Linked DNA regions of Homo sapiens. The protein of the gene in region 2 purifies or fractionates together with the protein of the main gene of each other region. This does not show direct contact. Each region holds a gene or a part of one and is shown on either strand. Other genes may lie near its edges. The genes, in order: RC3H2, PFDN4, ZZZ3, KATNB1, WSB2, MIOS and NEDD1.

Region 1 (4,018 bases), on a different chromosome or scaffold from region 2:
GTTTCTGTTTCACCACTTGTTTCTCTTTTAAAAATTCTATTTCTCCCCCTTCTCTTTTTTCCTTTTTTTTTTTTTTTTTTTGAGACGGAGTCTCACTCTGTCCCTCAGGCTGGAGTGCTGTGGTGCTATCTCAGCTCACTGCAACCTCTGCCTCCCGAGTAGGTGGGAGTACAGGCGCCTGCCACCACCATGCCTGACTAGTTTTTGTATTTTTTCTTGAGATGGGGTTTCGTCATGTTGGCCAGGCTGGTCTCAAACTCCTGACTTCAAGTGATCTGCCCACCTCGGCCTCTCAAAGTGCTGGGATTACAGGCATGAGCCACCATCCCTGGCCTCCTCACCTTTCTTTGCTCAGGAAACTCCTGTTTATTGTGCACAAATCAATTCATGTAGCTTTCAGCTGGGAGAAGCCTTTTCTGAAATCCCTTTCTTCTCCCTAATTTAATTCCCTTTCCTCTTTGTTGCCATCAAGCCTTATAACTTTTACTATAATTTTCTACTTACAAGTTTCTCTTTCTTACTAGTGGCTGAAATCATTGAAGGCAAGGATTATGTATTTAGTTATGTAAGTTCTGTTTTGTTCCAGAAAGAATTTGTGGTCAGGACATTATCTTATCTTTGTACCTTATTTCTGTGGTGTCTGATATGTAAGTATCCCCCACCCTCCCTGAAAAAGGAATAAACGAATCAGTTGAAGGGAGAAAGCACAGACCAATTCTGATTTTTCTCTTTTCTATTTTTTAGGTTACCAAAAGAGATGAAGACTCTTCCCTAATGCAGCTGAAGGAGGAATTTCGGAGTTATGAAGCATTACGCAGAGAACATGATGCCCAAATTGTTCATATTGCCATGGAAGCAGGACTCCGTATTTCACCTGAACAGTGGTCCTCTCTTTTGTATGGTGATTTGGCTCATAAATCACACATGCAGTCTATCATTGATAAGGTTTGTGAAATTAGAGATGCTGATGTTCTATCATTGCTGTTACATTGAAGAGTATTAGAATATTCTAAAGAGTCTATACACAAACAGTTGGAGATTCCTATGTTTTTAAATGTCAGACTCTTATAAATTATCCTTATTTTCTTTTTATTTTTCTACTTGCAAAATAAAGGGATGCAACAGGGAAACAAATACATGATACTAGCATAAAAGCAGTGAGGCTTACAAAGTCTCAAATTTATCTATATTCTGACCTCAGAGAGTTAATACAGCTTATAAGTTTTCTAAGTGTCTAATGATGAATTTCATAGGGCAGATTCTGAGGTGAAAATTTAATTCATCACTGATACTCCTACTGTGGAATCTGAAGACACTTGAAAACGTATTAAATATGTTGATAAATTGAAAGTATTTGAGTATAAATGTGTCATAAGAACCAAAGTAAAAAGCATTCTCATTTCTGTTTGTTAGCTACAGTCTCCAGAGTCATTTGCAAAGAGTGTCCAGGAATTGACAATTGTTTTGCAACGAACAGGTGACCCAGCTAACTTAAATAGACTGAGGCCTCATTTAGAGCTTCTTGCAAACATAGACCCTAATCCAGGTATGTGGGAATATGCTCAGTTGCTTATATTTTTTTCTACTTTTGAGGTGAATAACACAAGAGAATTACTGCTAACATTCTTCCCCCCCAACCCCCATGCCCTTGGTGGCTTATTTTAGACGCTGTTTCACCAACTTGGGAGCAGCTGGAAAATGCAATGGTAGCTGTTAAAACAGTAGTTCATGGCCTTGTGGACTTCATACAAAATTATAGTAGAAAAGGCCATGAGACCCCTCAGGTAAGTACATTTATTACATTTCTGACTGCTGTTGTCTCTAACTCAGTTTCATCCTGAACATCTTAACCAGCTGTTTTGTTAATTGGACTCCGTATGTGACTCATAAGTTTCTATCATCTCTATTCTTTTGGGAGGAACCCAGTTTTTAGTGTACTTGGTAAACATTTCATAGCACACCAAGAGTTTAGAGGGTATCTTGGGTGTGAGTATACTTTATTGCAGAATATTTTTGACCAAATGTAGATAATTGATTCCAAACGTTTTGTCTCATTCTTTTCTACTGTGGGAAATTGTCATTTTTTTTCTGTATTGAATTTCTATATGTAAATTTATGGAATTTGAATTTTCTTTCTTTTTTTTTTAGACAAAGTCTCACTCTGTCACCCAGGCTGGAGTGCAGTGACGCTATCTCAGCTCACTGCAACCTCTGCCTCCTGAGTTCAGGTGATTCTCCTGCCTCAGCCTCCCAAGTAACTGGGATTACAGGCAAGTGCCACCACGCCCTGCTAATTTTTGTATTTTTTGTAGAGAGGGTTTTACCATGTTGGCCAGGCTGGTCTCAAACTCCTGACCTCAGGTGATCTGCCCACCTCGGCCTCCCAAAGTGCTGGGATTACAGGCGTGAGCCATCGTGCCTGGCCGAAATTTGAATTTTCAAGATACTTTTCAGTGTACTTTAGAAGTTAAGATATAAACCTGGCCAGGCACAGTGGCTCACGCCTGTAATCCCAGCACTTTGGGAGGTTGAGGTGAGTGGATCACTTGAGGCCAGAAGTTCGAGACCAGCTTGGCCAACATGGTGAAACCCCATCTCTACTAAAAAAAAAAAAATACAAAAATGAGCCAGGCATTGTGGTGGATGCCTGTAATCCCAACTACTGAGACGGCTGAGTCAGGAGAATCGCTTGAACCCGGGAGATGGAGGCTACAGTGAGCCGAGATCGCGCCACTGCACTCCAGCCTGGGCGACAGAGTGACTCTTGTCTCCAAAAATATAAAATAAAAAGAAGTTAAGATATAATCCTTTATACTTATAACTTCTATTTAATAAATTATTATGAGCCATTCACTACATTCAATGTTTTACATGTATTATTTCTTATCCTCACAGCCACCTGCAATGTAGTTGCTGTTTCCAAGCTGAAATTCAAAGAGGTTAAATAACATAAGATTGTGCTGTCAGGGGGCTGGGCGCGGTGGCTCATGTCTATAATCCCAGCACTTTGGGAGGCTGAGGCGGGCGGATCACAAGGTCAGGAGATCGAGACCATCCTGGCTAACATGGTGAAGCCCCATCTCTACTAAAAATACAAAAAATTAGCCGGGCGTGGTGGCAGGCGCCTGTAGTCCCAGCTACTTGGGAGCTCTCTGAGGCAGGGAGAATGGCCTGAACCCGGGAAGTGGAGCTTGCAGTGAGCTGAGATGGCGCCACTGCACTCCAGCCTGGGCAACAGAGCAAGACTCCGTCTCAAAGATAAAAATAAAAAATAAAAAAGGTTGTGCTGTCAGTAAGAGCTGGGATCAAACCTACACTTTGTACTCTTCTCTCCTTATTCTTAGAAGATATTATAACTTAAAATATTAAAAACAAATGTTTTCATCCTAGGCTCATAAGAATAAGAATGTCTTAGATTTTGATGCAAATTGTAGAAGTAATAGTGAAATTTTAATATTCTGCCTCATTGTATGAACTCAAATAGTTTAAGCCTGAGAGTTGCACCCTCAAGCTGACAAGTGAATTGGTAATTTTTCACTTCTAGGTGGAATTGTATTCTACCTTTTCTGAGAAAGTTTAAGTAGACAAAGCTTTTGGTTTTTTTTTAATGCTTTTTAAAATTGTTTGATTTTGGTAGCAGAATTTTAAGACAGCAATAAATTGATGAAAAAATATTTTCTTTTTCTGGGCATTCTGTTAACTAATGAATAAATGGACATAACATTTGAACCAGTTTCGAATAATCTTCAGAAGGAATATCTGAAGTGCCAATTCAGGGTTATGTCACATAACTCACAACAGGAAACAATGGAATATTAGTTGTTTCAGCACAAGAATTACTTGTCTAATGTGAAAAAGAATTAAAGGTGTAATTATAAAGTTCTGAACTTCCTAGAGTGAATAACAAATGGAATCTTCACCTTGCCACTCATTGAATGTGTTCCCATTTTTGTAGCCTCAGCCAAACAGCAAATACAAGACTAGCATGTGCCGAGATTTGCGACAGCAAGGGGGTTGT
Region 2 (4,467 bases):
CCTCACACCAAGTCTAGGTATTACACGGAGTCTGCACTGACAGCTGGGTCCCTAGAAATAAATTCTGGCCAATTTCAGTCTTTTATTTTTACTTTTAAAAACATATCTACCAAGTCTGTATGATGTAAACTTTTGCTTTGTATTTGTATTCAACCTTCTTTGTTTGTTTTTTTGTTTTTGAGACGAGTCTTGCTCTATCGCCAGGCTGGAGTGCAGTGGTGTGATCTTGGCTCACTGCGACCTCTGCCTCCCAGGTTCAAGCGATTCTCGTGCCTCAGCCTCCCGAGTAGCTGGGATTATAGGCAAACGCCATCATGCCCAGCTAATTTTTGTATTCAACTTTCATCCATGCAGTAGTTTATTTAACAATTACTGTTTCCTATACGCCATGCACTGTGACAAGAGAGCCACTATCCCACTTTCATGAATACAAATGGCAAGCATACATCCTGGTGGAGGAAGAGAGCAAAAAACAAGATGAACAAGATAATGTTCAATGGTGACAAACGTGATGATGAAAATAAAACAGCTTAGGAGTAGAAAGTTTTGGGGGCCTGGGGAGTGAAGGAGGCTTCTTTAGATAAAGGTCAAAGGTAGCCTCTCTGAGGAAAGGACATTTGTATATAGGATAATGAACAGAAATCAAAGTGCAGATCTCCTTATGGTCAAGAACTGGATCTTAGAAGGCAGAACTCTAGAGAGGAGAGGACTGAATCATCTCATCTAAACACTCTCCCCAGCAAAGTCATGACCAGTTGAGAGATACGATGTGTTACAAACGTAAAGTACTCCAGATTGTACGATTTGCTTTTAATTAAACTCAAAGGGCTATCTCTCTCTGTTTCACTCTCACTCACTGGCATACACATATGTTTTCTCCTAGTGAGGGCAAAGGGGAAAAGTGTACATGCAAGCTAATCTATCGGGAATTGTTCCTAACACTGGAAACATCTACAGGAGGACACTGCATCTATCATGTGACTCTTAAAGCCTCCAAAGTTAAAGAAGCTCCTTTATATTTTGGCCACCACCTACCCCTCTATAAGTTCTTTTCCCATCATGGCTCAAACTCTCTTCCCCTGATTATCTGCCATCGGGCCTTCCTTGTATTAAATGCACTCAGAGTCTCTGCAGATACTCCTCTCTAGAATGCTTCGCTCCCTATCCAACTCTCCCTTCCTTTCCTTACATAATCTCACAGATCTCAACTTAAATGGCACTTTCCCAGGAAAGTCTTCTCTGATCTCAAAACAGACCTCATTTTGGCCCTCATTTCATAAGCACTTTTCCTTCACAGTTCTCATCAGAGAAACTAGTTTTCTGTCTGACTATCTGAGTAATGCCTGCTCTGCCCTGGAACATACGTTCTTTGGGGCTATGAGATTAAGGGGAGAAGAGCTTTCTCACTGGTCACCACAGTTGTCTCCACTTAAAACTGAGACTACGCCATATTACGTGCCCCCGAAAATTTACTGAATCAATGAAAGGAAAAAAAAAGTTGGTAATTAGAAATTTTGCAATCAAAATCCAAGGTTCAAATCATTCTTCTGCCATTTCCTCTTCTACCATTTACTTCACCTCTCTGCACTTCAGTTTCCATACCTATAAAACGGAGTGAACCACAACTAGTATCTTCCAAGGAATTAAAGGCCATACCTAACACCAGAGGGCCCAATTTAACAAACTAGAGGTGAAGTGAATCTCACAAAGTTTCATACTTTTTTGAATCACCATGGCCCTAGACCCTACTCTGGGACACAGTAAGAATTTTTGGATGGCAGAATAGTAGGGTGAGCAACACATCCTGAGTTGGCTGGGGCTTTCCCATTTTTGGCAGTCCCTCAATTTCATATAAAAGGGGGCAATGGGTCACCCTACACCAGGCACAGATGGCATAGACTATGTGGTACTGGATAGGGGCAAAGCAAAGAAGTTCTAATGTGGTCTTAAAAGTGGAATGAACGCAAATCCCTCCAGCCAAGAGATTCTCATCAAAGACCCCCTATAGCAGTTTAAAACACAGACTCCGGAGTCAGAATGCCTGTGTTTAAATGCTAGCTTTGCCTCCGCGCCTGTTTTCTCATTGTTAAATAAGGATAAAAACAGTATCTCCCTCAAAGAACATAAAATAAACAATACACGCAAAACAACTTACAGCTGTACCTAGCACACTGTAAAGCTCCCCAAATTATCAGCCGTTATCTCCTTCCCCCTCTCCAATTTTCTTTTTCTTCTATCTGACTATCTTTACACATCTGGGAAGGCTCACGGGATTAAAAACCCCACATGGAAGTTTAGCCGGCTTAGTGGTTACACAGGCGTGCTTTGAGAAAAACAAAAACAAACCTGAGTTTGAACTCCAGCTCTGCTTCTTACTAGCTGAGTCACTTTAGGGCCTCTAACTGCTCTGTGTCTAAGTTTCTCTACCTGCAAAGTGGAGAGGAACCCATTGCACTTGCTGAGTTGCGGGGAGGATAACAGATAAACGGCCGGCTGCTGGGCCCGGCACATCTTCCATTCTCAATAAATACTGGTTTTAGCCTGAAGGACTCAGGGGCATCAAGCGTGGAAATGGGCAGCTCCAGGTTGGACACAGGGTCTCTGGGGCCTGCTAATCTGGGGATGCAGGAACCTGCTGTCCCCGTTATGAGCTGCGTAACCTCGGGCAGGTGACTCCCCATCTCTGGGCCTCAGTTTCCTCACCCGTAACCACGCTCCCAGCAGCAGCTACCCATAACCAGTGAGGCTAATGCGATCATGCCGGTGCAACGCCCGAGTCAAGGCCAACCACACTCAACGGGACCTTCGGCTTCCCACACCTCAGGGGCGAGGCCGGGGCTGCAGGTTCCTCAGACTCCCCGGGGGCACCCTCGGCATCGCGGGAGGCGGACCTGCGTCCTTCGAGGCTCCCGGCCCCAGCCCCGGCGCCCCGCCTCGGCTGGCCAGGTGCCTAGGAAAACGCTCAGGGCGCCAGGCGCGAGCAGGCCTTGCCGCGGGACCGCTCTCAGGGCCTCGGCCTCGGCCTCGGGTCCCACGCCGGGCTTCGGAGCTGCGCACCCCCAGCATCCCGCGCCCGGGCCCCAGCGGCCGAGATCCGGCGCCGCCCGAGCATCCAGAGCCCCGAGCTCCCCACTCACCGCCTTCTTCATGGTGGCCGCCATCTTGGGACTGGACTACCGCAGGCGGCGGGGAGGGCCGCAATGGCGCGCTTCGCCCCCGAGCGTTCTCTCGCTCCCGGTCGGCCTAGAACTCCCCGCAAAAATACAACACTGTCTCCACATTCCGTCCTCTTGGACTTTTGGCCAGTGAGTCCAAACGGCTGGGACGTAGGGAGGAAATGTGACCTGGAAGGACTTGGTACATGCCAATTAAAGGGACAGGCAACCCCCGTGGACCGACATAAACACGGGGGTGTGGCGAACGGCTCCGGCCGCGGGCAGCAGGGGGCGCGCCCAAGGCTCAGCGCGGCGGGGCCCAGCTGGGGCAGGATCAAAGGGCTCGGGGAATTTTTCTCCATCCGTCCCACAGACTTGCATTGAGAAAGCTAACCTACCTGTAAAACAGCTAGGAACGAATGGCCTTGGCAAATAGGGTGTGAGATTTATGTGCCATGATAATTCAGGTGGTGTAAAGGAGGTACTCCTATCTTTTAATGTAATTTTTTTTTAATTTAAATTCGGGGGGTATGTGTGCCGGTTTATTACATGGATATACTGCATGGTGCTAAGGTTTGGGTTTCTAATGATCCCGTTGCCCAAGTAGTGAACATAGTACCCCACAGGTAATTTTTCAACCCCTTTCCCCTGCCTCCTTCCCCGTTTTTGGAATCCGTAGCATTTATTGTTCCCACCTTTATGTCCACGAGTACCCAGTGTTTAGCTGTCACTCATAAGTGGGAACATGAGTGGTTGGTTTTCTGTTTCTGTGTTAATTCACTTAGGATAATGATGTCCAGCTGCATCCATGTTGCTGCAAAGGACATGATTTTGTTCTTTTTTATGGCTGCATAGTATTCCATGGTGTATATGGACCACATTTTCTTTATCCTATCCACCACTGATGGGCATCTGGGTTGATTCCATGCCTTTGCTGTTGTGACTAGGCAATCCTATTAATTAATTTACAGCAATATTACTGAACAATTACTGTATATTCTGACACTTGTGTCTCCCAATTAGTAATTTTTTTTTTTTTTTTTGCCTTAGGACCTCTTTATACTCCTGGAAATTACTGAGGACTCCAAAGAACTTTTGTTTATGTGGGTTATTTATCGATATTTGCTGTATTAGAAATTAAAGCAGAATTTTTAAAATGTATTTATTAATTCATTTAAAATAATATAAAACTCCATTCCATGGTAATAAAAATCACACTTTAAAAATAACTATATTTTCTAAGACAAAAATAAATTGAGAAGATTGTCATCATTTTACATTTTCACTGATCTCTTTAATATCAGGCTTAATG
Region 3 (3,390 bases), on a different chromosome or scaffold from region 2:
CGAATCATTTACTAGCTCCTAATGTGCAATGAAAGGTAGTTCTTTGTCAACACTTACTGAGTGCTTCACTTCCACAACTGGGACTAAGACCCAGAATTTTCACTCCAGTGTCCTTTCCATTACCTTGCTTTTTTTTTTTTTTTTTTTTGAGACAGCGTTCTCCCCCAGGCTATTATGCCATGGCACCATCTCGGCTTACTGCAGCCTCAACGTCCCAAGTTCAGGTGATTCCCCCAAACTCAGCCTCCCGAGTAGCTGAGACTACAGCCACGTGCCACCATGCCCATTTGTTTGTATTTTAAGTAAAGACAGGGTTTTGCCATGTTGCCCAGGCTGGTCTCAAACTCCTGGGCTCAAGCAATCTACCTGCCTCGGCTTCCCAAAGTGTTGGGATTACAGACGTGAGCCACCATGCCCAGCCCCATTACACTACTCTTAAAAACATGGAAGAGAATCAAGATACACAGCCTATCTAGGGTCCCACAGAGAACCAAAACCACCTCTGCCACCCAGGGTTGAATCACAGCCTTTGGGTAAGATAGAGTCCAATTCCCCTGTCCTCTCACAGAACTGTCAAGATGACCTTCTGATGCAAGGCCTCTAAGGATCTCACAGACACACTCAATCATAGGTGGTGTCTCTCAAGTTCCTGGAGGAAAAAAATGTAAACTCACCAAAATGTTGGTCATACAACCAACACATATTTATTGAGAATCTATTAAATGCCAGGCCCTAGAGATACAGACAGACATGGATCGTCTCTGTTCTCATGGAGCTAAATGTATTATAACTCTGAAAACTCTAGTTAACTAGCTACATTAACTGTAGAAAAAAAAAGTTGTATCTTTTTTCTGGGATCATATAAATAGAAGAACATTTTTCATCAAGAAATAAAAACAGTTTACAGCCTAAACAGAACAATGTCTTCATAAGCTTGTGGAAAACCCTACTGAAATCTGAAGACTTCCAATCCCATCCAGTGCATCTATAGATGAACAACAGGCTTCAAACTTCAATATCCACAATAAGAAATAGTTTTATATAGCACACAACACATATTTATGATTGAAAAAGACATTTCACAAAACAATATTTATCTTTATTACATGTGATGTACCATTTTCTCTATTCCATTTTTTCAAATGTTCATACCTAGTAAATTTTTGTGTTCTGTGAATCAATTTAAACAAAAAGGGGAAGGGGGGAAAACAGACAAGGCATACTATTAGGTTAAGTGAGAAGCACCCAACATGCATAGAAGAAAATCCTACCCAAGGCAGGAAACACAAGCCTTAGTCCCAGCTTTGCCTGAGACTTTGCAAGCCTGGACATATGCTCAGGTTTGTACTCTTAGGAAGCACACCACATCAGGAAAACAGAATGTAAGGCAACATCTGCACACCTCCACTCCTAACACCTAGTGTTGCCTGACACAAGGGGAAATTCCTGCTCAGGAAACAGGATAGTAAGGCAGACGCTGACTCTGAAGTAATCTGCCTAGGTTAAAATCCAAGCATGACCACTTTACTAACTATACGACCTTGGGCAGGTTAATTAACTTCTCTCTGGCGAGATTTCCTCATATGACAACAGGATAATAAATGACCCTGCCTCATAGAGTTGTTAAGAATTAGTTATCATATGCTTGCTTGGCACATAGTAAACACTGTATCAGTGTTTTCTATTATTATGCATCACACAAAAGGAAACCTCCTCTACCTAAATCTTACAACAATGGTTTTAGATATTAAAAGTTTCTTAAGATGTGCAAATAACTTGAGCACAATATATCAGGAAATAGATCTTATCTACTGAATACCACTGAATAAGCAATGCTTTAGCAAGTAGGTCTTTTACAGTCTGTTTTAGCTTACAGTCCAATAATTCTATGTAGGCAGATGGTAGCCTACCGGCAAATGACAGCTCTGCCCATTATTCCTGCAACTCTCAAATTAAAACAATAACAAAACACTACCTACTACTATCTGAACTTCAGGGCCTTTTAAAGCCATGGGGGCTGTTTCCTTGGAGCTGAAAAATGCAAAACAAACACATCTTCTGCTCAAGCCGAAAAATCTTCTTAACTCAAAAATCTCAAAAAATGTTTGCCCTAGAAAAATGCATTCAAATGGTTTGTCTATTCCATTTATATAACAATTGTATCACTCATATCCCTCTTCCAAAGCATACATCATACTTTATGGAATTTTTGAATGGATCTGAATGGCTTTCCAAAACTAACTGGTATTATTTCTACACAAACATAGAAGTTACCATCAAGCATTACTATCTTGCCTAATTACAAGTTGAAGGCAGATCTTCTGGCATATTCACAAAACATTTAATATAAAAACGCCCAGAATGCTAATGATTCCCCTCTTCACCCACTAATAATTCCAGGGTGAGAAGTTAAGCTCAAGTCCATTTACTTTCCTTCTGTTATGATATATTATATCTATATCATCAGTGATCTTTAATCAATATATTACTTTAAAATTCTCATATTTCTATATTTAAAATTCTATTACTTTTCTCAATTAAAAAAAATTCAGGGTATGATTTTAGTACCCTGCTATGTACTGAAGAGAACTAGTAAATAATGTTCCCTTGATTTAAAATAGGAAAAAACAGGTGATTCTAAAAATTGGGTCAAATATAACAATCAATCTTAGAATATTTATACTATCTTTTCCTATAGTTAATAGTAATTTCCAGGAAACAAGGTGATTTTTCAAAAGCCATCTGTTTAAATACATGGGGGCTTATCTTCATGAGACACAACTAGAAAAAAAATTTTCAACTTTAGTTTTCACACCTGAGCATTAATAATTGCCTTTTTCTTTAACCATGGTCCGTGTTTCCTTTTTGTAAGCTAGTTTAATTTAGTGTTTCAGCACACACTGAGTAAAAATCTTTACCATTTTTTACAGGGTTGCTTAAGATCACCCTCTTTTCCATAATACATTCCTTATTCTTCATAAATGACAGAAAGAAAACTCTTAAATATGTGAAGCAAACCATTTTAAAAAATACCAATTTCTGGTTTTAACACTGGTAAAAAAAAAAATCCAAAATCTAACCAAAAGGAAGTCACAACAAGCATTCTATAATATAAACAGACAGTATCCACATAGTTTATTTCTCACAGTTCTCCTGACAAATGAACATCATTCAAGAACATACTGTATACACAGATAAGAAGAAACATACAAAATGTTTTAAATGATGCACAACAAAATCCAGCAGTATAAAAGAATGCATGTGAACCCTTGCTCACTGTGCAGACTAAATTTAATCACTTGTTTAAATAGTAATAAAAATACAATCTTTTATGGATCTTGTGCAGACTACAAAAGAGGGAAATTATTACCATATATATGATTTTTATAT
Region 4 (4,189 bases), on a different chromosome or scaffold from region 2:
GATGTTATTCTGCTAATCTTTTAAAGGTGTCTTGCGGTGACTCACGCCTGTAATCCCAGCACTTCGGGAGGCTGGGGCGGGTGGATCACCTAAGGTCAGGAGTTCAAGACCAGCCTGGCCAAAATGGAGAAACCCCGTCTCTACTAAAAATATAAAAACTAGCCTTAGCCCGTCGTGGTGGCGGGCGCCTGTGGTTCCAGCTACCCAGGAGGCTGAAGCAGGAGAATCTGAAGCAGAAGGCTGAAGCAGAAGGCAGAGTGGGGACTCCCCCACGCTTTGGCTTTCAGAACAAGGGTTCGAATTCTGGGGCTATTACTTTCTGACCGTGTGGTTTTCTGCAAGCATCTTAACCCGGGCCTCAGTTTCCTCATCTGTAAATGGGAACAGGAATTCCTACCTCTTATGGTTGTACTGGGCGTTATGTGAGCCCAAGGAGCCCTGACCTGCGGTGAGAGGCTGGAGGCCGAAGGGCAAGGTTCGAGGGGCTCTGGGTGCCTGGGACAACCTCTGGGCAACAGGGAGAGGCGGCTGCGGGGCCAAGTCCCTCCTAAGCGGCCACGCGAGAGGCCCTGAGTCGAGAAGGGTTACGGCGCTTCCCAGAGCCCACCCCGCCCAACGTGTCACAAATAAAGCTGGCCTTTCTCCGATTCCCTGATTGCAGCCATTCAGGGAGCAGCCCCTTGCCCACGCATCCATTAGTCGAGGCGGTGGCTGCGTGTGCAGTGCTACAGGGTTCAGCGCCTGCCTCGGCTCCGGAATCAGGCTGTTTCCTTCTAGACCTCCCATGGGGGATTCAAGCCGGCGTCCGGGTCAAAGAACAGGGACAAAGTCCTCCTGCCACGGGGGACCATCTGCAGGCAAAGTGAAGAATGAGGAGCTTCGGCAAAATGCCGACTAAGGCCTCCTTAGGTTTTGCCCCACTCCAAGATGGAAGGCCTGAGGCTTCACACTGCCCCCGAAGTTCCTTTCCCATTGGCTATCTGGGAATTGAGTTTTCCAATAATGCGGACGCTGATTGGTCAATCCAGGACGGTTGCTCAAGCCATTGGCGCAGCCGCCATTGGAGGGCGGCTCTCAAAAGTTTTCAGACACAAATTAGGTTCGAGGGAGGAAACGGAGAGGAAAGGGAAAACTTGAGACGGAGGCGGGACTAAGGAAACGGCAGCTTGCATTGGTTTATTAGAGGCCAAGGGGCGGCTCTTGAACGTTCCTTCCTCTTGATTAGTCCTATTTAGGAAAAGAGGGCGGGTACTGAGGAAAAGCGGCAGAAGCGCCTGCTTCCATTGGTCAGTCCTGGCAGGAGGCGGAGCACCCGCGGCAGCTGATTGGTGCGGGAGGCAAGGTGGGCGGGGCTCTGAGCCGGAGGTTTTGTTGTGAGGGTCGGTTGTCAAGCAGCGGCCAATCAAGGCAGGGGATGGAGGCAAGTGGGGGTCGCGCCTGGAGCGGAGCCTCGGCCTCCGGAGCCGCAGCTGCAGGTGGAGTGGGCAAGGGGACGAGGTGGCGAGGGGACGGTGGGCCCTGGGCTGGGCCGAGCCAGGCGGGGCTGGCTGGGCTTGCGGGCAGAGAGCTCTGAGCGTGGGGAGGCTAGAGCCCGTACTCCGCAAGCAGAGGGTTGGGAGGATCAGCCGTGGCCGAGGGACCTGCCCCCGCCCCCGGACGAGAGGGGTCGGGGTGGAGGCCGGAGGGGGCAAAACCAGGGAGGCCGGAAGCAGAGCTGGGGGTCTGCAGAAGGACAGGTAATGAATAGGGAGAAGAGAAGTAGGAGAATGAATGAATGGGAGACCCCGCGAGCATATGGGAAAGGGCAGTAACGGGAGTCTGGCGAGGCAGGGGCCACGTGAGGGATATCGGGAGACAGGATGTGCATAAGTGGGAGACTCAGGGGGCAGGGAGAAAAGGGGGTGTGAACGGAGGACTAGAGAGGCAGACCCGGGGACCCAGGAGAAAGGGGACGGAGGGGAGCGGGCTCATGGGAAAGAGGTGAAGTGGCTGTGGGAAGGAGGTGGGAGGCTCCATGAGGAGGCCTTTTAGAGTTGAAGAGTCATAGCCACTTACGCCCAGACTGGAGGCCTAGTTCCTAGCTCTGTCCTTGGGAATCGCAGGGAGCAGGAGCGGTTCCCTTGCCAGGAGCTGGGGAATTGGACCATCAGGGTCGTCTTCGAGATTCTTTCCAAGGAGGACTTCAGTGGCCGTCTCTGGGATGCCTTTCCTAGGCCCCTAAGCTTAGCTTCTGACTCCGCTCTCCCACATCCCACACGTCAGACAAAAACAACGACTCGCAGGAAATCTATGTGAATTGCAGACACGTGGTCTTCTCCGCCCCACTGCGGCTGCTGCACTTTAGGCAGCCAGCATCCCGGAACAGAGCTGCAGCTCATTATCCTGGCCTCTGGGAGGAGTTTCTTTTTCCTTACGTTCCAAATCACCCTACCTGAGGTGCCCCCTCTGCAGATTCCCAAACCTAATTTGCAGTGCAGCTTCTGACTCTGGTGGCTTTGGTGGGTGTCAGTCTTTATCAAGTGGTCTTGGTGATCCAGGGAGCAACAGCTCTTACCAAGCATTTTCTAACATGACGTCACCTCTTGTTTGTATTGCAGCCCTGTATTGAGCTGAGATGGCTCGAGCCTAACATTCCATGATCCAGGATCGTGACAGATGTGCACAGGCTGCTGCTGTTGCTGCTGTGGGTAATTTGGAACCACGAGGCACCCCAGGGCCAGAAGACGAGGCATTCTGTCTGCCTGGATGTGTGGGAACTCTCTGCCAACTTGATTGGTGGATCTGGGGGGGGATCCACCCCCACCCCACGAGGAAAGCACAGTTTATTTTGTGGGTGGGGCTTCAGGTGCCAGCCAGCTGAAGGATGGCCACCCCTGTGGTCACCAAGACAGCCTGGAAGTTGCGTGAGTGGTTTTCATTTTTCTTTATCACCCCATTTATTCTGTTAGCGGCTTGTTGCTGGGAGGCCTGAACCCACAGCTTTGTTTCCTGTTCTTGGCACAGGAGGAGACTCCTAGACTTGGGAGTAAGATAGACCATTATGTAAATCATGACTGTGGCACTTCTTAGCTGGGTGACACTGGGCAGGTGACTTAACCTCTCTGAGGCTCAGTTTTCTTATATGTACAATGAGATGACGCCTGCATTCTATGGTTGCTGTGAAATTCAAGTGACAGGATGAACCCATCCTAAAGCACTTAGCACAGCATTTCCAGTTAGGCTGACAGTGGGGTGAGAAATCCTGAAAGATGTTCACAGCATTCTCAGACATCTCACAAGTCAAACTTCCCCAGTCAGATAAAAGCATCTTGGGCCTGGGATGGGGGAAGGAGTGGGAGCGAGGAGGGGCGGGCAGAGGGATGCAGACAGGGCTCGGATTGTAACTGATGGGCACTGTCCACTCCCACCATTGCCCTATACAAGTGGATCTGGACTCTTTCATCTGAAGACTTCATACTTTAAGAATTATTGAGGACCCCAGAGTGCTTTTGTTTGTTGGAGTTATATATCTGTCAGTATTTACCACGTTAGAAGTTAATACTGAGACATTTTCAAACAAGAGTATATAATCAAATAGGCCTCTAGTGATGTTCTGGGAAACTCCACCATATGCTTGAGAGCAAATGAGAGTGCAAAAGGCAGATGCCATCTTAGTGTTATTGTGAAAATCCTTTTGTCTTCTCAGACCCCCCGAAAGGATCTTGAGGATCCCAAGCATCCCCAGATCATATTTTGAGAATTCCCCTACACATTGGCACCTTGGTGGGCCCTGCCCCACCTATTGTAACTGGTTGGCATAGCTTTTGTGTGCTCCACCTGGTCACTGTCTGCTGCCAGCTGTCCCTGGGCTGGTTTTCAGGAGCTGGGACAAGACTCCACACTTTTTTTTTTTTTTGAGACAGAGTCTCACTGTCACCCAGGCTGGAGTACAGTGGTGCAATCTCAGCTCACTGCAACCTCTGCTTCCCGGGTTCATGCGATTCTCGTGCCTCAGCCTCCCGAGTAGCTGGGATCACAGGCACCCGCCACCACACCCGGCTAATTTTTGTATTTTTAGTAGAGACGGGGTTTCACCATGTTGGCCAGACTCGTCTCGAACCCCTGACCTCAGGTGATCCACGTGCCTCAGCCTCCCAAAGTGCTGGGATGACAGGCATGAGCCACCATGCCTGGCCAAGACTCCACACTT
Region 5 (4,511 bases), on a different chromosome or scaffold from region 2:
GATTTTTCCTGTATCAGGACATGTACATTAGATATTCCACCGGCCTCAAAAGCTTTCCTCAGTTGCTCCATCTTATCATTCAGGGATTGGTCCTCATGTCACCTTCTCAGAGACCATCCTGGCCTCACTATCTAAAGCGACCATACACTTTCCTTTTTTATTTTTTATTTTTTTTGAGACAGGGTCTTGCTCTGTTGCCCAGGCTGGAATGCAGTAGCACCATCACGGCTCACTGCAACCTCGACCTCCCCAGGCTCAGATGATCCTCCCATCTCAGCCTCCCCAGTAGCTGGGACTACAGGCACATTCTACCATGCACGCGCCTATAGTTCGGTATTTTTTGCAGAGATGGGGTTTTGCCATGCTGCCTAGACTGGTCTCAAACTCCTGAGCTCAAGTGATCTACCCAAGTTGGCCTCCCAAACTGCTGGGCCACTGCGCCTGGCACCATTCACTTTCCTTTAACCATTTGATTTTCTTTATAACCATCACTTAGATATTTTCTTCTTCTTTTTTTTTTTTTGAGATGGAGTTTCACTCTTGTTGCCCAGGCTGGAGTGCAATGGCGAGATCTTGGTTCACTGCAACCTCCACCTCTCCAGTTCAAGCGGTTCTCCTGCCTCAGCCTCCTGAGTAGCTGGGATTACAGGTATGCACCACCACGCCTGGTTAATTTTGTATTTTTAGTAGAGACGGAGTTTCATTATGTTGGTGAGGCTGGTCTCGAACTCCTGGCCTCAAGTGATCTGCCCGCCTCAGCCTCCCAAAGTGCTGAGATTACAGACGTGAGCCACCCCGGCGCATTTGGTTGATATTTTCTTGATTGCCTGTCATTTTTACGTATTTATTGTCTGTCTCTTTCTGAACCCACCCAAACTTGCCAGTTCACTGCTATTGGGCTACACTGTCTAATAGGGAAATCACATGTGGTTACCAACCACTTGAAATGTGGCAAGTCAGAATTCAGATGGGCTGTAAGTAAAAAATACACAACACGTTTTGAACACTTAGCACAAAAAAAAATCTAAAACATTACATTACAATTTATTTGATTACATGTAGCAGGAATATTTTAGACATGTTGTATTGAAAGAGTTTTTAAATTGTCACCTAGTTCTTTTTTCTTTTTTTTAATGTGGCTACTTGAACATTTTAAATTACATACGTGGCTCACATTAGACTTCTGTTGGTCGGGGCTGGCCTAGAGGGTGCCTGGCACATAGTAGACGTTCAACAAATATTTGCTGAATGAATAAGTGAAGTCTAACCATTGCTCTGAAGATTTCAACTGTTGCCCATTGTATTTCCTTTACAATGGGCTTTATTCCATTTGAAAATAAGTTAAAACTCTGGCCTTTTTTGTACAGTAACTTGGCAGCTCTCAACAACCCTGCCCACACCCTCAAAACGAAGTTGTCAATCTTTAGGAAAACCCCAGAACTGGAAACAGATTTCTGTTAAAAAGGCAGGCTAGCTACAGATTGCTTTCAGATTGAACTGTAAGGAGGCAATGGAAATCAAACGGAAGCTATAAAAAGATTCACATAGGATCTACACAAACAGTAGGGGCCCTTTTAAAAAGAATTCTACGGGTAACACTCACTGAAAAGAAAGCCCTTATCTAGATGGGAAGGAGAGAGAGCTGCCTTTAACTCAATGCCTGACTTCAGCAAACAAAGAAATGTCATTTCCTAAATTAAAAAGTAACACCACCCCAGGGAATACCCAGATTTCAACCTTCCCACCCACAGTAACAAGCCATCAGCAATCAGAACCCTCCAGACCAGGATGAAGCTTGAACTTGGCTGCAAGATTACCATGAAGTTCTGGAACAAATTCTGAGCCCTAGGCCTTGAACCTGCTCTGAAAATTTCTCCTAAGGAAATTACATTTAAACTCGGGTCCTTCAAGACCTGGGACTCCCGGAATCAATTCTAAATCTATCCCAAGTGGGGTTCCGAGGGAAGGTCGTTGGAGGGGAGAGGGCCAAGGCGTGCATGCGTCTTGGGGTTTTTTTCCCCTTGCATAAGAGACACACCTTTCCCACTGAGATTTTATGTTCATCTGGGCTGGCTTGAGGTATATCCAATATCCTCTGACTTCCACGCTGTCTTCTGATGGGGATGGCAGTTAACAAGAATAGAGGCAAGGTCCCCACCCATCAGTGTATCCTAAATTTGCCTGATCATACATGTCACCAGGGATCAGCGTCTCCAGTCCCGCCCCACCTCCACTGACTTAATCTCCAGTGGGAGAGGCTGGGAATAGATTGTTTCAATAGGGAACCCAGACCCCAGACCCCATTTTTACCGGGTCCCAGCCACCCTCCGAGGAAGGTACTAGGATTATCCCATTTTGCAGATCAAAACTGAGACGTGGGTGGCGGTGGTTCAGTGGCTTGTCCACTGTCACGATCACACAGCTTGTGAGGGACAGAGGTGACTCCCATCCAGACATGCAAGTGCGTCCCCTGGCACCTGGGTACCCAGGGGCACCCACCCCCTTGGGGATCTCCGTTTTAGGGCTTGGTGCCCCCCGCCCCGAGTCCCACCCGGGAGCCCCCTCTGTCCCGGTCGGGGGATCTCCTCCCGCAGAAGCCCGATCTTCCCGATCCTGTCGCCGGCGGGAGTCAGGGTGGCGGCCACTGACAACGAAAGTGAAACAAAGCTGGTCGCCGGGCGCGCACCCCCGCCGGCCCCGCGCGGACCTCCCAGGCCGGACGCCCCCGCCGCGTCCAGCCCCCGCCCCACCCCGCCCAGCCCGCCCCGGGGTCGCCTCCCCCCTCCCCGGGGAGAACGGGCCAGGGCCCCGCCGGGCGGGAACGGGCGCGCCCGGCCCCACTCACCTCCGGCCTCCATGGAGGACGCGAGCGGCCCCCGCGGCAGGCGGCGGGCGCCTCAGCCCCCCGGGCCGCGGGCCCTCATGCCGCCCCCGCGCCGCCCGCCCCGGCCAGGCCGCCGCCGCCGCCCGGAGAGGCCATCAGCTGCTTCCCGTCACATGGCGGTGGGCGCGGGCGGAGACGCGCGGGGGCGGGGCGCAGGGGAAACGGAGGGGGGGTGCGGACGGGATAAAAACGGTGGGGGGCAGCTGAGGGAAAAGATGGAAAATCGGGGAGGCGGTACGCTGACGGGATAAAAGCTGAGGGGTTGCTCAGGGGAAACGGGGGCGGGGAAGACGCGCGAACCAGATAAAAATGGGGCAGGGGTGGGGGGAGCTGAGCGGAAACGGGGTGGGGCGCGAACGGGATAAAACCCAGGGGTTGTGCGGGGTCCTGAGGGGAACCAGCGCCGGATAAAAACGGGGAAGGGAGGGAGGTGAACAGAGCTGAGGGAAACCGGGAAAAGGGGAGCGATAGAAACCGGAGTAGGGGAAGCCGGGCTCAGGGGAAAAGGGGGTGTTGGAGAGTGGTAGAGCCGGGCTGAGAGAAAAACCAAGCAGGGGAAGCGGCGATCCGGGGAGAACGGAGAGAGGGAGACCGAGGGCTGTGGGGGTAAGGGGAACCAAAGGGGCTGAAGCGAAATCGAGGGGAGGGGCAGGTGAAAATGGAGCCATGCGAAGGCCGATGAGGGGGGAAACGGGTAAAAATGGGGGCGGGAGAAATAGGTTGGAGGGAATACTGGCCGAGAAGAAACCTGGGGAGAGCTGGGCTTAGGGGAAAATGGGGAGGGGGTGGAAGGAAGGTGTAATAACCGGGTGCTGGGGAGGACGTAAGAATTGGGGGGTGCGGCGAGGGTCAAGGCTAGGGTAAAACAAGGGGGGCTACTCAATGGCTCCGGTAATGGGAGAGGGAAGTGAGGAGAACACGGGGCGGTGGGGAGAGGAGGGCAGGGTGAAAACCGGAGTGGGGGTGGGAACGAGATAAAAAACGGGGCAGGAGCGATTCGGAAGAAGACTGTCCCCTTACCTACCTACGGCGACAGCCTCGCCTGTCCCCGTCCCCCTGAGAAACCTGCTCTCCCTGTCTACCCGCATAGCCTCAAGAAATGGCTCGCTTGGGTCAGACGCCCCCTTTTTAACATTCCAGGGCCAGGGCAGGAGTCATCATGGAGGCTTTTCATGCCTGAAAGACCCCATTTCTTAGTTGTCCGGTCCCCAGTAGTATCAGTGGCTTGGGGATTTCTTACTGAGCTCAGCTCATTGTCCCCAAAATGCCTCCCCTTACCCCCAACTCGAGCGCTTCCCTTTCCTGCTTTGGGCCCAAGCTCTTCCCGCGGTTCTTGGTGTCAGCTTCATTCAAGTCACTCTCCCGCCTCTCATTCCTTTCTCCCCGCCTTTCTTCGCTTCCCTCCAAGTGCCCTCTCCATTTGCCGGTCACTGGTCCCAGAGCTCCGGATCGCAGTGGTTCCATTTTAAATTTCTTTGCTTCCTAACGCAACCTATGTTTTCTACGGTAACTGAGGTTCCCGTGTTCTTTTTCACCATGGTCTCTCCGTTTTAATGTTTCGGGTTTTTTTACCCAGGCCCCTGTTTTATGAGCCCTGGGTACGTCCTTCCTGTGTCCCGTTTGGCCT
Region 6 (4,018 bases), on a different chromosome or scaffold from region 2:
GTTGCATATGTTACAAAATTTTGATCTGGAAAGAGTTATAAACATTATTCTGTCCCATTTTACATCTCGAGAAAGTAATACTCAAAAAAATTAACTGAATGGCTATGGTAAATGGGGCAGAGCAAGGAGTCAGGCCTGTATTTTCCGACTTCCCAATTCAGTACTTTTCACATTACTATTAACATTTTTTAAATAGCAACATTAATTATAATTATTTATACATAAAGTATAACTAAATACATAAATGAAACAGCTTGGAAATATGAACTTCGTACTCAAGATGACTGTTATCTAATAACTCAAATTTATGTATAGCAAAACAAGGATACTGGGGCAGGGCATGGCGGCTCACATCTGTAATCCCAGCACTTTGGGAGGCCAAGTCAGGTGGATCATTCAAGATCAGGAGTTCGAGACCAGAATTGATATTTCTGGCCAACATGAGGAAACCCCGTCTCTACTAAAAATACAAAAATTAGCCGGCATGGTGGTGCATGCCTGCAGTCTCAGCTACTTGGGAGGCTGAGGCACAAGAATCACTTAAACCCAGGAGGTGGAGGTTGCAGTGAGCTGCCATTGCACCACTGCACTCCAGTATGGGTACAGAGCAAGACACTGTCTCAAAAACAACAACAACAACAACAAAAAAAAAAAAAAAAAAAAGGGAAAGAAAAGTACTTATTATGGGTCACTTAACTTAAAATGCAGAAATTTAATATTTAAACAATATACATCTTTTATCAATTCAGAAGTTAACAATCCACTTGTTTATCTAGTCTCTATCATTCTCTAACACTTCGTGAAAGCATTATTTTATCTCTCCAAGATACATTTAAAGTCTTCTGTTTAACAAAAAAGATTAATTACAGTTAAAAAATAAAGTCCTAACATTATACGTATTAATTTGAATTGGTCAGAAAAAGTTCAATAGTAATTTATTAAAAGTAATAAAGTACATAAAGTGCAAAATACACATTTATTAAACATTTCATTAAGCTGCTCCAATAAAATACATATTTTTACAAATTCTTAGGGACTAATCCTTAAATCACTTATTCAAGAAATGTATAATTGATAAGAAATGGTACAGTAGCAAACACAGAAATGAATTTCAGTGTAGAAAGTTCTTCCCACTGCTAGAAAGAAGCCAAGTAGTGCAAAGAAAGTTGTAGTACTATTGTTTAGCTTAAAACCCAATAGCTAAAACTGGTAAGCAAATCTCACTTCATTCTTTCTTTCCCCGTTTTGTGATAAAGAACCTATTTGATTGTGTTATGATCACAGGTGGTTAAAACAGAAGAGAAAAAGAATAACACAAAGACCAAATAAAAAGCTGAAATAGTCCACTGTAAGTACTGTTATCATTCCTAACAGGAACCACAAAGACTAACTGGGACAAGATGTATGGCCACCTCCACCATAACTGATCAATAATCGTGAGTTGTTTTATTTAACTACACACACACACACACACACACACACACACACACACACACGTGCATGTGTGCACAGTGTAAACAGCGAATATATTTTTATGTTTACACAGCTGTAGATTTCTACAGCTCAGTTCTTAAGCTAAAGGATAAAATCTTTATTCCTTCTATATCTGTAAATTATATTAAAACCATAAAAATCAAATCCAGTTTGGTATCAGTTAACTAACTCTAGGACGGGAATCACACTCAAGAAGAGCTGCTCAAAAAAAAAGCCCAAGATGCCTTATTTTAAATAACATATGCATAAAAATATAATATTTTATGCAACAGACATTTGAAAATTTTAATAAAGTTAGATAAAAACTCCTATCTTAATTCAAAGGAAGATCTTAAAAAACAAGTTAGCTTACCAAAACTCCATCGTAAGATCCTGTTTCACTTGTCAGAAATGCAAACATGACACACAAATACGGGTTATTTAGCTGTAATCGCAGTGTGCTACACATTTCTCTCCAAAGGGAGTTCTTCTCATCCGTATAACCCGATAAAGCCATTGCTACCACATTGAGATTCAGATCTCCTGCATATTAAAAACAGCCAGCTAATCAAAGTGATCAAAAGCTTAATATCTCTTCTACATTTCTTAAACCATAAATAGAAATCAGAGGGTGACTTTTACCCTCAGAAAAATGAGCTCAGAGAATAAGGGTTTTGGGCTGCTCTGCCTATGGAGTAGCCATTCTTTTATTCCTTTACTTTCTTAATAAAGTTGCACTTTACTCTTGAAAAAAAAAAAAAAGGGGGGGGTTTGGGTTTTGATTCAGACTGGAAAATTTGGCAAAGACAATAAGCAAAACATTTCTACCCTTATAAAACTCATGCCCATGTGTGCAAACTCTGTGCAGGGAAGCAGATCTTTTACTTTTCAAGTTCTCAATCCAGGCAGGGTCTTATATAAGTTATTCCTGTGTATGTTCCCATATATGTATGTTATTGCTTACTAAATGAAGAAAAGTGAAGTCATCCTACCAGAATCACTGTCAACTTTAACAAGTTTATTAATGTAAAGGTATTTCAAAAACACTTATAGTAAATATTGCATCTCAAGACTGCAATATTCAAAATCATTTTATTTTCCTATTCCTAAATATATAATGCAGACACTTATGTATATAAGTGTCAATGCAAAGTGCAGAAAGTAATATTTCAATACTTTAATTACAGTATTACACTTACAATTTTTCCAGGACAAAATGAACTACAAGAATTACCACAGAACTGCATTTAGACCCATTTGCAAGAAAGCATTTGTTACCAATAGTCTTTTAAACATTTGTTCTTAGCAGTTTAGATGCATGCTGATAAGCTGCTAACTTTGCCTTCAGCAGTATGGCTGCCTAGTCTTCTAACCGAAGTTCAGCTTCAAAAGAAAAAACTGAATTTTCCTTTAACTTTGACTTTTAAGTATTTTCTACACTTATTATATAAGTTTTCTTAATCTATTTCTTGATTCTAATCTTTTTCTTTCTTTTCCAAATAAAGCAGTGTTTCCCACTTTATGTTCTTAACAGCTTTATATTCCTCATTTCTATAAACACTTTCCCAAGTTACTTTGTGCTTGCTTCCTTTGCCTAATACATTAGATTTAAGGTCTTTTAAAATAAAAATAAAAATAGCAAAGAAGTATCTTTGGATTTTGTATAGAACAATTTACTTCTAAATGGAAAAGAATGTTTGACTCAGAGAAGTCTTCTCTTCAGTCCTTAAAATCACTGGAAAGATACATTTTCCCTATTGTTAGTATGGGTGTTTAAATCGACCACCAAATTTCCCAGGTACACAAGATAGGAAAGTATCACCCTTTCAAGTTATAGCAAAATTATAATTAGAAATGGCTTTAAATATCAATTCTTTTTTCCATCATCACCTATTTTCTATTGCACTCTTAAATGAGGGAGACTTTTGTTAGAGCAAAGGTGAAGGAAAAGATGCCAATCTGAGCAAAACATTGACTTTTTTAACTTTTAGACTACAAAAAAAATTACAGTGAATTTCATGTTTTTCTCTATGCTACAGCTAAACTATAATGGTTTCAAAATGGACCAGCAAGTAAGGATTCAGTATTCTGAATATTCAAAAATTATTTTTTAGGTGTACTAAAGACCAATAGCTATATATATTTTAGTTATTTCCAAGCGAAATATTCCTGATAAGAAAAAAACCCCTGAGGTTTTGTATTAGGATTTGTTTTTCCGAGGATCCTCTGGCAAAATGCCAGAGTAAAAAAACCTTATCTCTTTCTTTTTAAAAAATACTAAATGAAAACTGTATTTTAATCACCAGATTCAAGAAGCAATTTGAAGATCAAAGTATGCTTTTTATAACAATTTGTATTAGCCTAAATAAAAGTGTCATTCAGAGTTTCTTAAAGGTCAAACAATAACCATCCCAAAGAAAGTATAAACTAAAACACTCAAATATGGATCGTAAAAATACTTGTAGGCTAAAGTAGCCCTAATCTTTAAGAAAATATATTTTAAAAAATGTTATGTGAACTATCTTTAAGAGAAAACATTGAAAAT
Region 7 (4,018 bases), on a different chromosome or scaffold from region 2:
CCAACAGCTTTTAAGGGGGTCAAAAATGCTTCAAGGAAATCAAATAGATTTGCATTCACTTCTGTGGACCGGTGACGACACAGGAAGCTTAGAAAACACTGGCAGTCCTGGTCTCCCATCAGGGCTTGTTTGCCCATCCTATCTCCTCTTGATAAAGCCTGCTCTTGTATTTCCACAGAATATCCTACATTAAAATCAATCCCCAGCTCAAAAATGCTAAAAATAGAAGAGACTTTAAAAGAATTTCCAGTGTACAGCCCTCATTTTACCGATGGGATAAGTTTTTTTTTAAAGAAGTCAAGATACTTGCCCTAAGTCTTCCAGCAAATCTCCGTTAAGGAGACCAAGTCTCAGACATCAGGTCATCAAAGCCTGACTTCAACTGTTCCCCATCTCTGTAAAGACACCATCCAGTTTCTCAAGATAAAAACCCAGAATAACCCTTGATTTCTTGTTCTCCCTCCCCTCCAATCTATCAGTAAGCTCTCTAAACTCCAACCCAAGAATGAATCCCACATGGGCTCCCCTTTATCTATAGCTACTACTAACACTAACCCAAACCTTACCAAACTACGACAGCAGCTTCCTAACTGGTTTCCCTGTTTCCACTCCTGCTCTCCTATATTCCATCCTTCATAAGTAGGGTGGACTTTAAAAATGTAAATCAGATCATGTCTCCTTCCATACCCAAATGACTATAAATCATGCTGCTATAAAGACACATGCACACGTATGTTTATTGCGGCATTACTCACAATAGCAAAGACTTGGAACCAACCCAAATGTCCAACAATGATAGACTGGATTAAGAAAATGTGGCACATATACACCATGGAATACTATGCAGCCATAAAAAATGATGAGTTCATGTCCTTTGTAGGGACATGGATGAAATTGGAAACCATCATTCTCAGTAAACTATCGCAAGAACAAAAAACCAAACACCGCATATTCTCACTCATAGGTGGGAATTGAACAATGAGATCACATGGACACAGGAAGGGGAATATCACACTCTGGGGACTGTGGTGGGGAGGGGGGAGGGGGGAGGGATAGCATTGGGAGATATACCTAATGCTAGATGACGAGTTAGTGGGTGCAGCGCACCAGCATGGCACATGTATACGTATGTAACTAACCTGCACAATGTGCACATGTACCCTAAAACTTAAAGTATAATTTAAAAATAATAATAATAATAATAATAATAATAATAAATCTTCAACGGCTTCCAATCACACCAAGAATAAACTCCAAACATTTACCTGGCTTTCAAAGTCCTATTATTTGGGCCCTACCTCATCTGTTACCATTTTCTTCCTCATCCACTAATTCTCCAGCCATACTGACCTTCCATTCCTTAAATATACAACCCTATATTTGCCTCAAGGCTTCTACACAGCTATTCTCCTTGCCTAGAAAGCTAAATTCACTGAACCCTGTTTGGAAGACTTTCTGGTCAACAGATATCAACTTAAGTGCCACCACACTTCAAGGGACCTCCATTGGCTACCTAATGTAACTTGCTATCACAATATCTTATTTTAGTTATCTGCATGATAACTTACCAATATCTGGGTATTTTTTGTTTACTAGTTTACTGCCTGTCCCCCGCCAGAATGTCAGTTTCACTAGCACAAGGCCCATATCCATGCTCCATCTTTATAGAATGGCTAAAATACAGATGTTGTCAAGTTCTTCTCAGTGAGTATCTTTGAGTGTCACCAATTTGGTGGTGCCATCAGTAACTATGCTATACAGAACAGTGTTGCATTTTTTTCCTAAGTAACCTTTAGATGCACTACGAAGTCACATTAGTTGGAACTTCCACAGTGCATCCTTGGATTCTTCAAATTCAAAGGAGACATTTCATGACTTCAAGAAAAGTTAAAAGGCAAGCTATGTAGGTTTAGGCAAATCATCTCACCTTTCTGAGCCTATGCTTCTGCATTTGAGAAACGAAAGGTGAAGACTAGATCTACTGTTCTTACTTTGAGAATCCATGCTTCTCAGAAATATCCTCTGCTCAAAAGAGATTCTTTAAAGGGTGCATATGATCCCCTTCCTCTAGCCCTTCCCCCATTGCACGTTCAAATACTATAAACATGCTAATCTTGTACTAAAGAGCCACTCTCTTACTGTCTTTCTTCCACATGGATCCAACGGCTTTTAAGGGGGTCAAAAATGCTTCAAGGAAATCAAATAGATTTGTGTTCACTTCTGTGGACCCCAGGGTTCCTTCTAGCTCTAAAATTTTGACCAAGAGTATCAACTAACATATAAAAATAGCAAGATGCACACAACATCAATGTTTCAGTATAGTTGCTGTAATTCTCCTGCAGATACCATTCTAGGAATTGACTTTAGTTGAGGGAGACTAAGAAGCTTTAGAATCTGGTTGTCACTGCAAATCAGGACAGTTTGCTAAGAACTATCAAAACAGCCTTTAAATAAAATAGAAAAAGATGGTGTCCATTGAAGATCAATATATTGGGACTCCAATCATCACAACAACTACAATTACTCTTAAGGGCTCAAAATAAAAATTATATTTAGAGCTGGCTAACCCTGTTGATAGGTCTTTTTTATGATAATGTATTATTAATGCAACTAATGAACTTAAATAATTAATGGAAATTGTGTGGTTATTACAGGAATCCTGAACTGCTCAAGGTGCAAGGCAAAGGTACATTCTACTTTAAAGAGGTGAAATACAAAATCAAAGAAAATAAATATGAACTTAAAGTTCTACTCTAAAATTTTAAAATCAGTAAGATCATAATTTATTTTCTCAAGTAGAAAAGGTCTAATGCCTCAAATAATACACGAGTAAGAGGACTTGGAAGTTACAAAAAGGTTATTAGCACATTAATATGTTTCTGTAAACATTACTAGTAAAAGCTAAAAAACCAATGTTTCCAAATATTTTCATAACTAAATTAAAATAGATTGAAAATTTGAACTCAACTAATCTTACTTTTATCCAACAGCATTATGATACAATTTGTTAACTATGGGAAAGAGGGCTAAGAATCATAGCAACTAATTTGGAATATTCACAAAACTCTTAGAATTATGTCACACTTGTAAATACCATCTGTTATTTTTATACTTTAAAAAAAAAGCTCCCAAATACTGATTCACTGATCCTAAGGCATAATGCATAACAGTAGTACATATATATAGTGGTAGAGTAGAAGTTGAAATTGTTTTGATGTTGACATTAACAAGTTTTTTGAACATCTTAGGATACAAAGATCCAAAGATGGTTAAGATGTTTTGCCTGCTCTTGAAGACTTCAGTCTGCCTTTATCGACCAGAGACATTCTATGCCTTGATTCTGCTTAAGTCAGGTTAAACAGAGTGCCTCAAACTCCATTTCTACTGTTAGCACATGTTCCCTCTGTCCCAGTCTCCAACATCTGTGGGTTAGAACTGAAGTTCAGGTCAATCCCACTGGATACCTTTAGGAGAGGATTGATAAAAATCATGAGTCCTCTTTAAATTAGTTGAGCTTTTATTCAGTTGTCCTGCTGTTTTCTTTCTAATTGGGCTACTTTACCTATCCCAGTGTGTAAAATTATGACAATTCATAATAATTTAAGATCTGCTAGAAAAACTTTGAAATTAAAAAAAAAAGCTATCAACTACCATATCTTTTTATTTAAATCTTATCTTATTTAAAAAAGAAATAGCTTTCAAAGAGTGTGTGACTAGAAATGAAGAAGCCAGTATTATCCTTAATCAGAGGGATTAACTTATAAAACAAAAGGATAGGCTGGGTGTGGTGGCTCATGCCTGTAATCCCAGCACTTTGGGAGGCTGAGGCGGGCGGATCATGAGGTCAGGAGTTCAAGACCAGCCTGGCCAACATGGTGAAACCCCGTCTCTACTAAAAATACAAAAATTAGCCAGGCGTGGTGGTGGGCACCTGTAATCCCTGCCACTTGAGAGGCTGAGGCAGGAGAATCGCTTGAACTGGGGAGGCGGAGGTTGCAGTGAGCTAAGATTGCACCAT

The links.
Region 1: the proteins of PFDN4 (region 2) and RC3H2 purify together in Homo sapiens (affinity purification with mass spectrometry; 3 studies listed by BioGRID and IntAct, with this or other methods). This does not show direct contact.
Region 3: the proteins of PFDN4 (region 2) and ZZZ3 purify together in Homo sapiens (affinity purification with mass spectrometry; 2 studies listed by BioGRID and IntAct, with this or other methods). This does not show direct contact.
Region 4: the proteins of PFDN4 (region 2) and KATNB1 purify together in Homo sapiens (affinity purification with mass spectrometry; 2 studies listed by BioGRID and IntAct, with this or other methods). This does not show direct contact.
Region 5: the proteins of PFDN4 (region 2) and WSB2 purify together in Homo sapiens (co-immunoprecipitation; one large-scale study listed by IntAct). This does not show direct contact.
Region 6: the proteins of PFDN4 (region 2) and MIOS purify together in Homo sapiens (affinity purification with mass spectrometry; 2 studies listed by BioGRID and IntAct, with this or other methods). This does not show direct contact.
Region 7: the proteins of PFDN4 (region 2) and NEDD1 purify together in Homo sapiens (affinity purification with mass spectrometry; 2 studies listed by BioGRID and IntAct, with this or other methods). This does not show direct contact.

The regions. Positions count from the first base shown.
Region 1 is NC_000009.12:122,877,521-122,881,538, reverse strand, and holds part of RC3H2 (roquin-2), read left to right. Parts: intron 1-744; coding exon 745-945; intron 946-1,219; exon of another isoform or gene 1,220-1,326; intron 1,327-1,413; coding exon 1,414-1,546; intron 1,547-1,665; coding exon 1,666-1,784; intron 1,785-3,955; coding exon 3,956-4,018. UniProt on the Homo sapiens protein: Post-transcriptional repressor of mRNAs containing a conserved stem loop motif, called constitutive decay element (CDE), which is often located in the 3'-UTR, as in HMGXB3, ICOS, IER3, NFKBID, NFKBIZ, PPP1R10, TNF and in many more mRNAs.
Region 2 is NC_000020.11:54,206,795-54,211,261, reverse strand, and holds the start of PFDN4 (prefoldin subunit 4), read right to left. Parts: upstream 3,176-4,467; 5' UTR 3,162-3,175; coding exon 3,138-3,161; coding exon of another isoform or gene 2,892-3,137; intron 2,861-2,891; exon of another isoform or gene 2,512-2,860; coding exon of another isoform or gene 2,347-2,511; intron 1-2,346. UniProt on the Homo sapiens protein: Binds specifically to cytosolic chaperonin (c-CPN) and transfers target proteins to it. Binds to nascent polypeptide chain and promotes folding in an environment in which there are many competing pathways for nonnative proteins.
Region 3 is NC_000001.11:77,561,398-77,564,787, forward strand, and holds the end of ZZZ3 (ZZ-type zinc finger-containing protein 3), read right to left. Parts: 3' UTR 1,019-3,390; downstream 1-1,018.
Region 4 is NC_000016.10:57,734,381-57,738,569, forward strand, and holds the start of KATNB1 (katanin p80 WD40 repeat-containing subunit B1), read left to right. Parts: upstream 1-1,389; 5' UTR 1,390-1,475; intron 1,476-2,055; exon of another isoform or gene 2,056-2,264; intron 2,265-2,597; 5' UTR 2,598-2,863; coding exon 2,864-2,903; intron 2,904-4,189.
Region 5 is NC_000012.12:118,058,191-118,062,701, forward strand, and holds the start of WSB2 (WD repeat and SOCS box-containing protein 2), read right to left. Parts: upstream 2,990-4,511; 5' UTR 2,859-2,989; coding exon 2,846-2,858; intron 1-2,845. UniProt on the Homo sapiens protein: May be a substrate-recognition component of a SCF-like ECS (Elongin-Cullin-SOCS-box protein) E3 ubiquitin ligase complex which mediates the ubiquitination and subsequent proteasomal degradation of target proteins.
Region 6 is NC_000007.14:7,583,634-7,587,651, reverse strand, and holds part of MIOS (GATOR2 complex protein MIOS), read right to left. Parts: intron 2,017-4,018; coding exon 1,847-2,016; intron 1-1,846. UniProt on the Homo sapiens protein: As a component of the GATOR2 complex, functions as an activator of the amino acid-sensing branch of the mTORC1 signaling pathway. The GATOR2 complex indirectly activates mTORC1 through the inhibition of the GATOR1 subcomplex.
Region 7 is NC_000012.12:96,913,430-96,917,447, reverse strand, and holds part of NEDD1 (protein NEDD1), read right to left. Parts: intron 1-4,018. UniProt on the Homo sapiens protein: Required for mitosis progression. Promotes the nucleation of microtubules from the spindle.